Homo sapiens: one gene and its partners. The protein of the gene in region 1 purifies or fractionates together with the protein of each later gene. This does not show direct contact. Each region holds a gene or a part of one and is shown in the gene's direction. Other genes may lie near its edges.

Region 1 (3,500 bases):
TCATTTACAGGGCAGTGAAAATAATGTGAGCTAATTATCTAACAGTTTATAATATTTTCTTTCGTACATTTATTACTGCAACTATGAGTCCTCTCTTAATCATCTTTTTTTGCTGGTTGTGCATGGCTTATATGCCTCTAACAACTCTGAAAGTGTTTGCCCTCTTGGTTTTGCTGCCAACCCAGGACAATTCCTATGTAGGATCATTTCAGGAGGAAGATAAGTAAACTTCCCATTCTTATTAGACTCCACTAGTGATGCCATTAAATGTTGATCTGTTAATGGTCTGTGAATATTTCATTTTATGTGGCATATTTCCATTTCCTTTTGTAAGTAGGAAGTCAGTTCTTGTGACTCTCATAGATTTATACCTTCACTCTTTTCTTTCCCCCTTAGAGTTGAGAATTATGGCTGCAGGAAAATTTGCAAGCCTTCCCAGAAACATGCCGGTGAATCACCAGTTCCCCCTGGCCTCATCCATGGACCTTCTGAGCAGCAGGTCCCCTCTCGCTGAGCATCGCCCAGATGCCTATCAAGATGTGTCTATACATGGCACCCTTCCACGGAAGAAAAAAGGTCCTCCTCCCATAAGGTCCTGTGATGACTTCAGTCACATGGGCACCCTCCCCCACTCCAAATCCCCACGGCAGAACTCGCCTGTGACCCAGGATGGCATCCAGGAGAGCCCATGGCAGGACCGGCACGGCGAAACCTTCACCTTCAGGTAACTTCTGTAATTTCACTAGTGAAGATGATTTGTCTTAAACAGCTTTTTAAAAGGTTTTTATGGCCGGGCGTGGTGGCTCACACCTGTAATCCCAGCACTTTGGGAGGCTGAGATGGGTGGATCATGAGGTTAGGAGTTTGAGACCAGACCAACATGGTGAAACCCTGTCTATACTAAAAATACAAAAATTAGCTGGGCATGGTGGCATGTGCCTGTAATCCCAGCTACTCAGGAGGCTAAGGCAGGAGAATCACTTGAATCCGGGAGGCAGAGGTTGCAGTAAGCCAAGATCGCTCCACTGCACTCCAGCCTGGGCAACAGAGTGAGACTCCGAAGTTTTTATTAGGAAAAACATCAAACATACACAAAGTTGAGCGAATAATTAACTCCCATGCACCTGTCAGCCGGCTCCAACAGTTACCAGCTCAAGGCCAGTCCCGTTTTGTCTGTACTCCCACCTACTTCCCTCCTTTGGTATTATTTTGAAGCAAATCTCAGATTTCATATTATTTCATCTGGAAATATTTTGGTATGTTCCTTTCAAAGATAAGGACTCTTATTTTAAAAACTGTATAACCACAATGTAAAAAAAACTATAACACCTAAATAAAAACCACTTCTTAACATTATGTAACATTTGAGGATATTTTAAAATCCAGCTTCCTCTCTTAAGTCCCTTAAAAGAAAGCCCAAGTATTTTCTTTTTATCATAGCATCAGATTCTGAACTATGTCCATCCACTTCTATAGAGATGCCAGGATGTCTATAAATTAGACCCCATATCTCCTTATATTTAGTTGTCAGCATGCTGAAATAAAATTTTATGTGGATGCACCAGCAGGTCAGCTTCAGAATACTTTAGGACAAGAATTGATTTTTCCCTCTCTGTGACAGAGATCTGGGTAAATGAGCCTTATGGTTGTAAATGCTTTTTCTCTGGGTTTGTAATGGGCCTGGCTGTGATTGGTTTCTGCCTGTTAGAGCTAGTTTGGAAACTGCACTCCTTTTCCTGTTGGGGAAGATCAGCAGCCTGTGATGCTATCTGGTAAAGAATGGGACTGTTTCTTTTGTTATCTCTCTTTTTGTCCAAGCTTGTCGCAAAGCCACTTGGATCCTAGCTCATTTATTTGTTCAATATTTATATATGGAGCACCTATATTAGAGTATGTTGATTTCATAAGCCCCAGGGCTTACCAGGAAAATTCTGCTCAGTCCTGATTATCTTAAATGAAGGGCTGGTCCAGCATTGAAAACATTCTAGCAGCCAAATTATTGAGCAATCTGTTCTTGCCCTTTTATAGGGTGGTGGAAATATGTGGACTAACAGGGTAGCAGTGGAGCATCTGAAGCAATATCTTCCCAGAGTTTACATTCTAGTGAGCGCATTAGGTAGTATATACAAATAAATAAGACAACTGCAGATTATACCAAATGCTATAGAGGAAATGGAGTGATATGCTGGAGATTTATTGGAGGTGGTACGTTTTTGGTAGGATGAACAGGTTTCTGAGATGATATTTAAGCTCATATTTGTATAATGAGGGAAAGCAACCATGGGCCTTCCAGGCTGTTGCAGGCATGGGGAAGTCAAGTGCAGAGAACTGGAGATGGGAGCAAGTTTGGCATGTTTGAAAACCCCAAAAGGAACTGGAATGGCCTGTGGCTGGAGTGTAGCACATTGAGAGGAGAACAGTGTTGGTGTTGGTGCAAAGCTAGGCGAACAAGAGTTCAGAATTATTCTCAGTTCCATAATTGCAGTAGTACAAGAAGAAAATAAGTGGAGGCCCAGATAATCTCCATAGAAACCACTAGAGAGCCCTGAACTGCTTCTGTCACCAGATTAGGACATTCCTTGGGGTATCCTGGGGGTTAGAAGGCCCTGGACCGGCTCCACAAAATCTAGGTGGGTGACCTCCCAGCTCAGAAAGTTGGCAGGCAGCCACTGCTGGAATGGGTGAACATGGAGGTGCATACCTGTGCACAGGATTGTTAACATCGCATAATTGGCACTTAAGGGGCAAGAATGCAGGAGGTGAGCAGCAAAGACAGGTAACTTCTGGCCTGCTAAAGATGAGCACAGATGCCAGGCTGTGTGATACGGAGTCAGAACCAACTGTTAGCTGGCTTATGGTGGACCGCTTTTCATTTATTAACTTAAACTGTCCTGAGCTAGATGTCTACCATGTACTAGACACAGACAGTTTATAGACTTACTCCTTGAAGTTCTGAGGCCCTGGCTAGGTGCCAGCTCTTACAAAGGGAAACTCCACACTAGGGGGGTGGGTGGGGAGGCAGTAGTGATGGAGTCACCCTTCCTATCTTGGGGAAGTTCTTGGTAAACACCCAAGGTCCAAGCTGTCAAGCTGCCAAGAGTGTAAAGCTTTTTGATTTGAAAACTGACTTGGACAGAGGTCATATTTCTGTAAAAGATCTTATCGGAGGGTGGGTGCAGGTCCTGAGTTTGAAGTCCAGGCTGTGGAAGACTTAACAAGCACTCCTGGTTTAGGGTTTGTTTATGATTGAGAGCTATATTAATCCAAATTCACATCTTTTTTTCTTAACTGAAAATATCTTATTGTTAAAGATGAATACAGGAAGTAACAAATGCATATCCCTCAAAAATTGTGCTGAGTGAGAAGGCACATGGTTCTCTGTTAAAGGGTCGTAAAGTCCTACCCTGCTCTGTACTACTATTAATATATTTATTTCTCTAACACATTAAAAAAAAAATCTCCTGAGGTGTTCCCAATTTTGAGGAGTACAAAATACCTTA
Region 2 (3,500 bases), on another chromosome or scaffold:
GTTTTTTTTTTTCTTCTTGCTGGGGCATTGGAAATGTCAGAAAACCCAATTAAACTGGCTTAGAAATAATGGAAATTTTTTGGGCTCACATAATAAAAAATTTAAATAGTGGACCTAATCCAGTGGCTCACAGCATGTCCCCGGGGATCTGTCTGTTGTTTCTCTTCTGGTTGCCTCCCTTGGGGACGCAGGATAGCTGCTGGCTGCTCCCAGAGGTACGTCTTTTCTATTTGCTTTTTGTGGGAAGGTGATCTTTCAAAAAAGTGCTCTTTATGGTGGAGTTTATAGATTGTTGCTAACGTGGTCCGGTACTACTGACAGATAAACATGGTCTTACCCAATTAAATGAATACATACCAAAAGTAACTGTCTAATGAAATAAGACCTGTATTCATACCACTTTCTCTCCTCGTTCCTGACAGAACTCTCTCAGAACAGCCTAGCAAGCAGAAGGCAGTAGAAGTTTGTTAAAAGAATGGACAATCCAGCCCACCAAATAATCTGATATTGAGTGTTTGAATTATGGAGGGAAGCTAAACTTCATCCCCTGTGAGGCACCCATCCTGGGCTTCACTCACACTGGACTAGGGTGGGTCACGTGCCCACCTCTAAACCAGTTCCTGGAGTTGGGAGGGCGGAATTAGAGCTCAAGACTTCTTCCTCCCCTCTACAGCCACATTGCACTGGGCTCCTTGTGACACACGTGTGCTCCATGGGGGGTGTGTACCCAGGTAAACCTAGGGGCTCTTATTCAGGAGGGAGGGGGCACTGGGTGGTTAAAAACAGCGATTGTCACCATGGCAAAAACAAGATGTTTTTTATGAGGGAAATAAAAAATAAAGCAGTCCTTCCAAACTTTCCAGAATATAGATATAATGGAAACTTTTGTATATGCAAATGATTACTTATATATGTAGAGATGCAATATATAAAATATAAACAATCATCTTTCGTCCACATAAGATCGCCCTGATTTGTAGCATTTGCTAATTTCTGTGGTATAAATACTCCTACTGTGGCTGATGCCAGGCTTCCAGCATTATGTGACTGAGCACAGAGCTGTGCAGTGATGAGCAGCATCAGCAGGTGCAGCCAGCTCCGGGCACCACTGCACAGATCAGTGCACCTTCATATGCCCAAGGCTCGCAGCAGGGGCGGACCAATGCTGCATTTTATAGACAGAGTAAAGCCTGTCATGTAAGACTATTTATGTGAACCTTTCAGGACACTTGGGGTAAACACATTTATTTAGTAGCATCTTGACTAATAACAATTTCCTTGATCTAAACCTCCCAACAGCTTTTTGGTTCTAAATTATTATTTATTATTTTTCTACCTAGATTTTTAGACATTAGCTCACCCATTTTTTATACGGCTTTCTGTATTAGATTAATTGGTTTTTGCATGTTTTCAAATGAAGAGTGCTTAACAGCAGGGTTACACTTAAAGTAGTTATGTTAAGGTAATTCATAATAATGAAGACAGGCAAGTTGCTGTTTTCTGAGGTTCTCATTGAGGCTAATAGTCTTAAGCTACATCATGAGCCTTAAGAGCCAATGTTTGCATATGGGATGTATACCACGAGCTTCTAGAAGCTGGAATGTGGTAATTTTGTTATAGAAGATTTTATTTGACTCGTTCCTCATTTTAAGATGAGTTGAGAAAAGCTGGGTACTCTCAAAGTTTTTTAAGAATTTATTTTTCTGCTTTATATGCTGCTATCTCCTAGTTGATAGCTTGAACGGTGGTTGATCTAAAGAATCACATTTTTTTTATTACTAATTTGGTTAAAACACTGATATTTGTGAAATGGCTATTTCTGTTTGTAAAGATAGACCAATTTCACAGAATTGAAGTTACTGGCTAATTGAGAGGCTCAAAATGGTCCATCTTCCTTGGTCCTGCAAGAGTAATAAAAAATCCCCACAAAATACTGTTCTGCCACCTTACTTTATTTACAAAACACATTATTGGGCATATTTCAAATCGAAGTCTCATTTCTGTGACACTGGGTTTTGATTTTCTTTCTCTGCCATTGTAAACTAGCTGGTCTGTGTTAGATAAGCTTTTACTGAAGTAATATTGTGTCTTCCCCTGTAGCATTCTCTTTCTTGAGTGACCTTAGGACAGGGTACAGAATAAAATTATATGCTCTGCAGCACTCTTGAGGACACACTCATTTACTTGCTGCCAGATCATCAGGTTAGCCTTGTGCTTAAGCAAAAACACTGCTGCATTTGTGCCAAGTCAGCATTTTCCACAGGAAAGTAATCTGTATTTGACCTTTTTAGTAGAAAATGGAAATAGTTGCTTTCTGTCATACCTTTAGTGAATGATAGGAGACCTATTTCTGTACAGAATACATTGGAACCTCACTAGTACGTTATTGGTAAATAGTGTACAGTGTTCATCTGTCTTGATTTTGTTTCATTCAAGAGGTATCAGTTGCTGAAAGGAATGAAAGGAGCTTGTCCTTTCTTCTCACTTATCAGGTGGTCCTGTTGCTGGTAGTCCCTGAGATCACAGTTGGCTTCCAGCTTCATTTTATTCAGCATTTATTTAGCACCTTATCTTTGCCAGGAGCTAAGATCTTTAAGCTGAATTCATGTTGAGTTTTATAAAGAATTTAGTATGTCAAATAATTTGTAGAATTCTTAGTAACAGAATAGGATAAAAAGCAGTGGAAACTTCTCAGCAGATATTTCGAATTGGATAGTACTTCCTCCCCTGCAGGAAATATGGAAGGTATAAGAACTGCTACTAATTATGCGGAAATTTCAGTTTAGTAACCAGAAAGTTACTGATATACAGCTCCCCCCGCCCCACCCCTTTAAAAATAATAAACAGGGGCCAAGTGTGGAGGCTCATGCCTGTAATCCCAGCACTTTGGGAGGCTGAGGTGGGTGGATCACTTGAAACCAGGAGTTCAAGACCAGCCTGGCCAACGTGGCAAAACCCCATCTCTACTAAAAATGTATAAAAATTAGCCGCACGTGGTGGTGCATGCCTGTAATCCCAGCTACTGGGGTGGCTGAGGCATGAGAATCGCTTGAACCTGGGAAGTGAAGGTTTCAGTGAACCGAGGTCATGCCACTGCACACCAGCCTGGGCGACAGAGTGAGACTCTGTCTCCAAAAAAAGGGATGAATAATAGTAATAATAATAAACAGAAATGCTGTCTCTTTTTTTTTTCTTTTTTGAGACAGTCTTGCTGTGACACTGGAGTGCAGTGGCGTGATCTCGGCTCACTGCAACCTCAATGCAAGCCATTCTTCTGCCTCAGCCTCCTGAGTAGCTGGGATTACAGGCACGTGCCATCATGGCCAGCTAATTTTTGTATTTTTAGTAGAGACGGGGTTTCACCATGTTGGTCAGGCTGGTCTCTAACTCCTGACCTCGGGTGATCTGCCTGCCTTGGCCTCCCAAAGTGCTGGGATTACAGGTGTGAGCCACTGCGCCTGGCAAGAAATGCTGTCTCTTAAGCAAAGAAAAGGTCCCTC
Region 3 (3,500 bases), on another chromosome or scaffold:
GAAAGGGTAACAGGGAGAGGAAGATAACAAGGATAAGAGGGAACTATGGCTGTAATTTAAACTTTGAATAAATGTTTAGAAAGATTGGAGAAGTCGTTTGCTTCTTTTTTAAGGAAACTCGCTCAAGATAGTTTGTTTATAGAGCTGGATTTTTTTTTTCTCTTATACTTTCATCCATTCTCCCCTGCTCTTTGTAGAGGTGTATCTATCATATACAAACCTGAAATTGGTGTATATTGATAAAGTTGCTGTATTTTGGCAGTGATATTCCTGTGTGTGTTTTGGTTCTTTCTCTACTTATGTATGAATATCATTAAATATATATTGAATTATTTGGGTATTTCTTTTGACAAAATTCTACATCAGAGACCTTTAAGAAAAATCAGAATTCAATCTATTATAGGTACATAGGGAAGAAGATGTTGTAAATAGAGAACTGGCTTAAGGCAAATAAAAGTTGGAATGGGTAAAGTTACTTTTCAGTTATCTTGGTTACTAGTGTGATATTTTCCTAAGATTCTGAAAGAGGATAATGAGATATGTAATTTTTAGATTTGCAAAAAGCACAGGTTTTTCTGGCTGGAAAATGTCCAGCTGAAGGTGATAATTAGTATGAATCTCTCACATGGGAATGCAAATGAGTAAGTGAACCACTTGGAGAAATGTAAGTCAAATAAGATGTTATGTCCATTTCTGGCTATCACTAATGATTAAGAGTAAAACCTCGAGTCATCATAAACTGTGTGCCAAAAGTGCCTAATATTTTTCTGTATGCATAGTGAATAGCAAGATGACTAACCTCTTTAAAGAGGGCACTTTTATATAGAATCATACAGTCTACATCTTGTACTAGGTGTGAAGGTGACCATTTTCACCTCTAAAACATTTATTAGTGCTTAAGAAAATGGCTAGAGAAACATAATGGGATGTAATGATGCCTCTTTAGGATTTTCTGAACATTCTTCAGTCTGGAAAGGTAAGGACCAAGGAAGCAGTATGACTAATGTATTAGTCCATCTTGCATTGCTATAGAGAAATACCTGAGACTGGGTAATTTGTAAAGAAAAGAGGTTTAATTGGCTCATGGTTTGGCAGGCTATACAGGAAGCATGGCAGTGTCTGTTTCTGGGAGGCCTCATTCATAGAACTTTTAATCATGGCAGAAGGCAAAGGGGAAGCGAGGCGGCTTACATGGCAGGAGCAGGGTGCCGGGGCTGTGCACTTTTAAACAGATCTCATGAGAACTCTATCATAAGAATAGCACCAAAGGGATGGTGCTAACCCATTCATGAAGAATCCACCCCCATGATCCAGTCACCTCCCACCAGGCCCCACTTCTAACGCTGGGGATTACAATTCGACATGAGACTTGGTGGGGACGCAAATCCAAATCATATCAACTAAAGTTAACAGAATCACGAAGTGGCGATAGTGTTACCTTGTTTGTTGTGTGATGCTGGGATGCGGAGGGGGCATTTCTGGGTATTGGAAAGAGAAAGTCAAGTTCATTGGGTGAATTGAAAACATGAAAATCTCATATCCTGAATGTTGCATAGATTTTAAAAGGTTTAATTAAATTGATAGATGATAGATCCATCATGAAAGGTAAATTTAAGGGGTGGGGGACATTCTGAATGTTTTTAGGACAATGTCAGTAAAGGGCAGTGCTCACCCAAGAGACATATATTGGTATCACTGTCAGAATATAGGGCCGGATGAACTGTTGTGCTTGTGAATTATTGGGTTACATTATTGAATTGTGACCCATTTAATGACGTGTTCTGCTTAGCGTCTTTAGGCCCCACCTAACTCTTCCAGCTCTCTATTCGACATTCTCTTTGGATTGTTTTGCTATAACTTGAAATTTGGGATGTCACAAACGAAACTGTCATCTGTTTCCGCCAAACTGTGGTTCTGCTAATCTCCCAGGCTGGCAGCATTGGAGACTTGCTGACTTCTTTCATCCCCCACTCTTTTCACCTGAAATTCCTTTCCTTGGTTTTGCTCTAAGTCCTATGCTTCAGTCAGGGGCCAACCAAATCTCACTGCCTCCTTTTTATCATGAAGCCTTTGATCACTGATAGTTCTTTTTATATCTTGAAAAATCACCCTTCCCAGTACAGTTAATATTTAGTATCTCTACTCATCTTGGCACTTACTCACAGCTCCATAATTCAGTGTTTCTCGTACCTCTTCATGGTGATGGGGAGCCCTTTGGAGGTGGTGACTGTGCTTTATACTCCTCATGATGCTTCACATGTGGCAGGCATGGAGTGAAGACTTTTTAGAACAGAATGCTTTAAATGGCATGTGGCCTGAGGAGATGATTGTCTTGTACCTCTTGCTAAAAGTGGTTTTCATTCTTTGTAGGTTTCATGTGGACAAACTCTCTTCGGCTCATGTATACCTTCGATTACATAAGGTAACTGAATTTAAACATGGATTCTTGACTTTTCTCCTGATGATGCATCATATCTTGTTCTTTATCCTTTGCAATTAAATTGCTTACAGTAATAAGTTGGTACGCAAATCTAAAAGTTAACAAATGAAGACGTGTCTTCCCTCTGACCCAGAAAATCACTCTAACATTCTAGATGATTTTTGAGATATAGAAGGAGGCAGTGTACATATTTCCCAGCTAGATGCACTGCTTATCCTGTCACTTCCGGTGTGCTGTCTGTCATCTCTGCTTTCCTTTTCTTTCAATTCAGTTGACACTCCCAGACTTTCTGTCTCCTCCAGTGGATATCATGTGTGGCTCATGTGATTCTCCTGCCTCAGTGAAGGGCCCGTGTTCCCAGTTATCATGGGCTTCTTTAGGAAGTTTAAAAGAACATGCTAGTAATAAAGGAAAAAAATTTTTAGTGGCCCCTAGTAATACAATACCACTATTTTTCCAATCTATCTCTATTCATATATTTTATATAGTTGAATCATAGGGTATATATGCTTGCGAGTGTACTGCTTTCTTTTTGATAAACTTTCAACTTTGGAAAAATGTTAGATTTCCAGAAAAGTGGCAGAAGTGATACAGAGTTCCCATCTACCCTTCACCTAGTTTCCCCCATCATCAACATCTTATATTACTATGGTAGATTTGTCAAGACAAAGAAACTAACCTTGGCACATCGCTGTCACCTAAACTCTGGACTTTATTTGGATTTCACCAACTTTCTATTAATGCCCTCTTTTTGTTCTAGTAGCCAGTCTAGAGTACCATATTACATTTAGTTGTGTCTGCCTAGTCTCCTCTAGTCTATCACAATTTCTCATTCTTTCTCTGTTTTTTATGACCTTGACAGTTTGAGAAGTACTGATCAGGTGTTTTGTAGACTATTGCTCAGTTTGCATTTATCTGATATTTTTTCTCGTGACTAGACGGGTTATGGGTTTAGGGGGAGAATATCACAGAGGTGAAGTGCCTGTCTCGTCACAGCATATCGGGTGCGTGTATTACCGTGACTTATCATTGATGACGTGAGCCTTGATGGCCTGGCCAG
Region 4 (3,500 bases), on another chromosome or scaffold:
AGAGTCTCCCTCTGTTGCCCAGCCTGGAGTGCGATGGCACGATCTTGGCTCACTGCAACCTCTACCTCCCAGCTTCAAGCGATTGTCCTGCCTCAGCTTTCGAAATAGCTGTGACTACAGGTGTGCACCACTATGCCCAACTTTTGTATTTTTAGTAGAGATGAGGTTTCATCATATTAGCCAGGCTAGTCTCGAACTCCTGACCTCAGGTGATCTGCCAGCCTCGGCCTCCCAAAGTGCTGGGATTACAGGCGTGAGCCACTGCGCCCAGCCCTATTCTTTCAATTTCTTTGTTTTCTTTTGAGACGGAGCCTTGCTCTGTCGCCCAGGCTGGAGTGCAATGGCACGGTCTTGGCTCGCTGCAACCTCCTCCTCCCAGGTTCAAGCGATTCTCCTGCCTCAGTCTCCTAAGTACTACAGGTGGGCTCCTCCACACCCAGCTAATTTTTGTATTTTCGGTAGAGACAGGGCTTCACCATGTTGGTCAGGCTGGTGTCGAACCCCTGACCTTGTGATCCGCCGCCTTGGCCTCCCAAAGTGCTCAGATTACAGATGTGAGCCACCGCACCCGGCTCAATTTTCATTTCACCAATCTTGTTCGTGATTTAGGTGTTGTGTGTCATCCATTATATCTTTAATGGTGAAGAATATCCTAAAAACTCTGATGTTCTTAGGAATATTGTTCTTTTTTTAAAAATTATTTCAGGTACTTGTCTTGGGCCTTAGACACAAATCAGGAAGAACGAGACAAGGGTAAAACAGTAGAAGTGGGTCGTGCCTATTTTGAAACCGAAAAGAAGCATTTCACAATTCTAGATGCCCCTGGCCACAAGAGTTTTGTCCCAAATATGATTGGTGGTGCCTCTCAAGCTGATTTGGCTGTGCTGGTAAGAAAGACATTTCCAGTCCATCTGTATATTTGTTAGTAGCCCCGCTTATATCTTTAAATTTGAATTTATCTTCTAAAAGCTCAAATTCAGGTTGCAGTGAAATATAATGATGTACACGGTCACAGTTTTCATCATACTAATCTCTCTTCAAGAAATCTTCAAAATTTGATTTACTTCTGAAAATACGTTTCACCTTTTCTCTCCTGTTGCTATTATCTATTACCATGTCAGAACTTAGTCTCCATTAAATGCCAAGCCCACCGTTAGGCACCATGGGTAAAAAATGAATAGGAAACCATCTGTTTCATACGGTCTTCAGTCATTTTGCGCTTTTCACAATGTACTGGTAGTAGATCACAATTTTTTTTCCTTTGTAGTTACAATAGCTAGAAAGTAAATGTTGGAATTTTAAAATATGCAGGTATACTAGATTTTGGGAATGTGGGGGATTGGAAGCATCTAGACATTGTTTGATTTGTGACATTCAAAAGCAGGTACGTCATAACTCGTTTGCTTCTATTTTCTTGCAAAAAAAAAAAAAAAAACTCGTGATATAACTGAAAGGAAAGATGTTTTACTGCCATAAGGGTATGCCTGAAGGCGAAGGAGTAAACTGTTTCCTTTCTTGGAATTAGGTAATCTCAGCCAGGAAAGGAGAGTTTGAAACTGGATTTGAAAAAGGAGGACAGACAAGAGAACATGCAATGTTGGCAAAGACAGCAGGTGTAAAACACCTAATTGTGCTAATTAATAAGATGGATGATCCAACAGTAAATTGGAGCAATGAGAGGTGAGCGTAGATGTCTGGTATTTTATGTTAGTGGGATTAAGGATGGTTTTGTTATTGTACGACTTTTTCTCTAGGGTTTTTCTAAACCTTAATCTGTTTACTTAGGAAACTAGAGTTCTTGGTTTACATTATAATTGAGTTATTTTGGTTACATTATAATTGCAGATATGAAGAATGTAAGGAGAAACTAGTGCCATTTTTGAAAAAAGTTGGCTTCAATCCCAAAAAGGACATTCACTTTATGCCCTGCTCAGGACTTACTGGAGCAAATCTCAAAGAGCAGTCGGATTTCTGTCCTTGGTACATGTAAGTAACTGTTTTTTCCTTTTTTTAAAAAGGAAAAGGATGTTATTACTTAAATTACTTATAAAGACATATGCTGAGTAACATGTTAACATATGCTTTTGAGCATATATCTTTATAAGTAATTTAAGAAAATATTAAATGTAACCTTGGCTTTAAAAATACTAAGATCTTTGCCCATTTTTAAACTGGGTTGTCATTTTGTTACTGAGTCCTAAGAGTTCTTTTTAATACTGGCTACCAGTCCCTTATCAGCTACAATATGATTATAGCAAGTATTTTCTCCCACTTTATGGATTGCCTTTTTTCACTTCTCGATGGTGTCCTTTGAAGCACAAAAGGTTTTATTTTTGAAGTTTTTTACATTTAGATATGTATTTGATTTTGAGTTAACTTTTGTGTAAGATGTAAGGTCTATGTGTAGGTTTGTTTTGTTTTTGTATATTAATTGTTTACACACAATTTGTTGAAAAGACTATTCTTTTTTCATTGAATTGATTTGGCTCCCTCTTTGAAAATCAAATGACCATAAATACGAGTTTATTCTTGAACTCCGTGTTTCTTTTTTTTGGTTTGTTTTTTTGAAACAGGTTTTCACTCTGTTAACCAGGCTGGAGTGCAGTGGCATGATCTCGGCTCACTGCAACCTCTGCCTCCCAGCTCAAGAGATCCTCCCACCTCAGCCTCCCAAGTCGTAGGGACTGTAGGCACATGCCACCGCACCCGGCTGATTTTTGTATTTTTAGTAGAGACAGATTCACCATGTTGCCCAGGCTGGTGTCGAACTCCTGGGCTCAAGAGATGCACCTGCCTTTCGGCCTCCCAAAGTGCTGGGATTATAGGCATGAGCCACTGCACGCAGCCAATACTGTATGTTTAAAGGGGAAATTATTTTATAGAATCTTGGTTTCATAGCTGGAAAAGTCCATAAAAAGTAATATAGTCAATTTATTACATGTAGGCTATTTGCTATAAAATATTTCTCTAAATTTTAATAAGTTTATGAGGAAGCCTTATACTGAGCAGTTTTATAATAGTTTTCTGTGGAATAAGTGAGATGAAATGGATAATAAAGTGGTTGAATGGGAAGAATACATGAGTAGAATGAAAATATTATTAGAAGCTGTTTATAGTCATGTAACTTAACATTTTGATATTTATGTTGACTTCCTTTAATGGCTTTGTTGTTATGTTCTCAGTGGATTACCGTTTATTCCATATCTGGATAATTTGCCGAACTTCAATAGATCAGTTGATGGACCAATCAGGCTGCCAATTGTGGATAAGTACAAGGTACCCAAAATGTTAAAGAAATTGGGTTTCCTGGGAGGGGAAATCATTGTTGTGCATTTTGTTTCTAGTTTTGAAAACTTTTTTTCTTTTCTTTTCTTTCTTGTTTTTTTTTTGACAGAATCTTGCACTCTGTCCCCCAGGCTGGAGTGCAGTGGCGCGATCTCAGCTCACTGCAAGCTCTGCCTCCTTGGTTCAAGTGATTCTCCTGCCTCAGCCTCCTGAGT

What was found.
Region 2: the proteins of BCAR3 (region 1) and LMNB1 purify together in Homo sapiens (co-immunoprecipitation; one large-scale study listed by IntAct). This does not show direct contact.
Region 3: the proteins of BCAR3 (region 1) and CCDC25 purify together in Homo sapiens (affinity purification with mass spectrometry; one large-scale study listed by BioGRID and IntAct). This does not show direct contact.
Region 4: the proteins of BCAR3 (region 1) and GSPT1 purify together in Homo sapiens (co-immunoprecipitation; one large-scale study listed by IntAct). This does not show direct contact.

What each region holds. Positions count from the first base shown.
Region 1 is NC_000001.11:93,671,838-93,675,337, reverse strand, and holds part of BCAR3 (breast cancer anti-estrogen resistance protein 3), read left to right. Parts: intron 1-396; coding exon of another isoform or gene 397-407; coding exon 408-724; intron 725-3,500. UniProt on the Homo sapiens protein: Acts as an adapter protein downstream of several growth factor receptors to promote cell proliferation, migration, and redistribution of actin fibers.
Region 2 is NC_000005.10:126,829,136-126,832,635, forward strand, and holds part of LMNB1 (lamin-B1), read left to right. Parts: intron 1-3,500. UniProt on the Homo sapiens protein: Lamins are intermediate filament proteins that assemble into a filamentous meshwork, and which constitute the major components of the nuclear lamina, a fibrous layer on the nucleoplasmic side of the inner nuclear membrane.
Region 3 is NC_000008.11:27,755,641-27,759,140, reverse strand, and holds part of CCDC25 (coiled-coil domain-containing protein 25), read left to right. Parts: intron 1-1,051; exon of another isoform or gene 1,052-2,370; coding exon 2,371-2,422; exon of another isoform or gene 2,423-2,838; intron 2,839-3,500.
Region 4 is NC_000016.10:11,884,957-11,888,456, reverse strand, and holds part of GSPT1 (eukaryotic peptide chain release factor GTP-binding subunit ERF3A), read left to right. Parts: intron 1-706; coding exon 707-887; intron 888-1,525; coding exon 1,526-1,680; intron 1,681-1,845; coding exon 1,846-1,986; intron 1,987-3,182; coding exon 3,183-3,276; intron 3,277-3,500. UniProt on the Homo sapiens protein: GTPase component of the eRF1-eRF3-GTP ternary complex, a ternary complex that mediates translation termination in response to the termination codons UAA, UAG and UGA.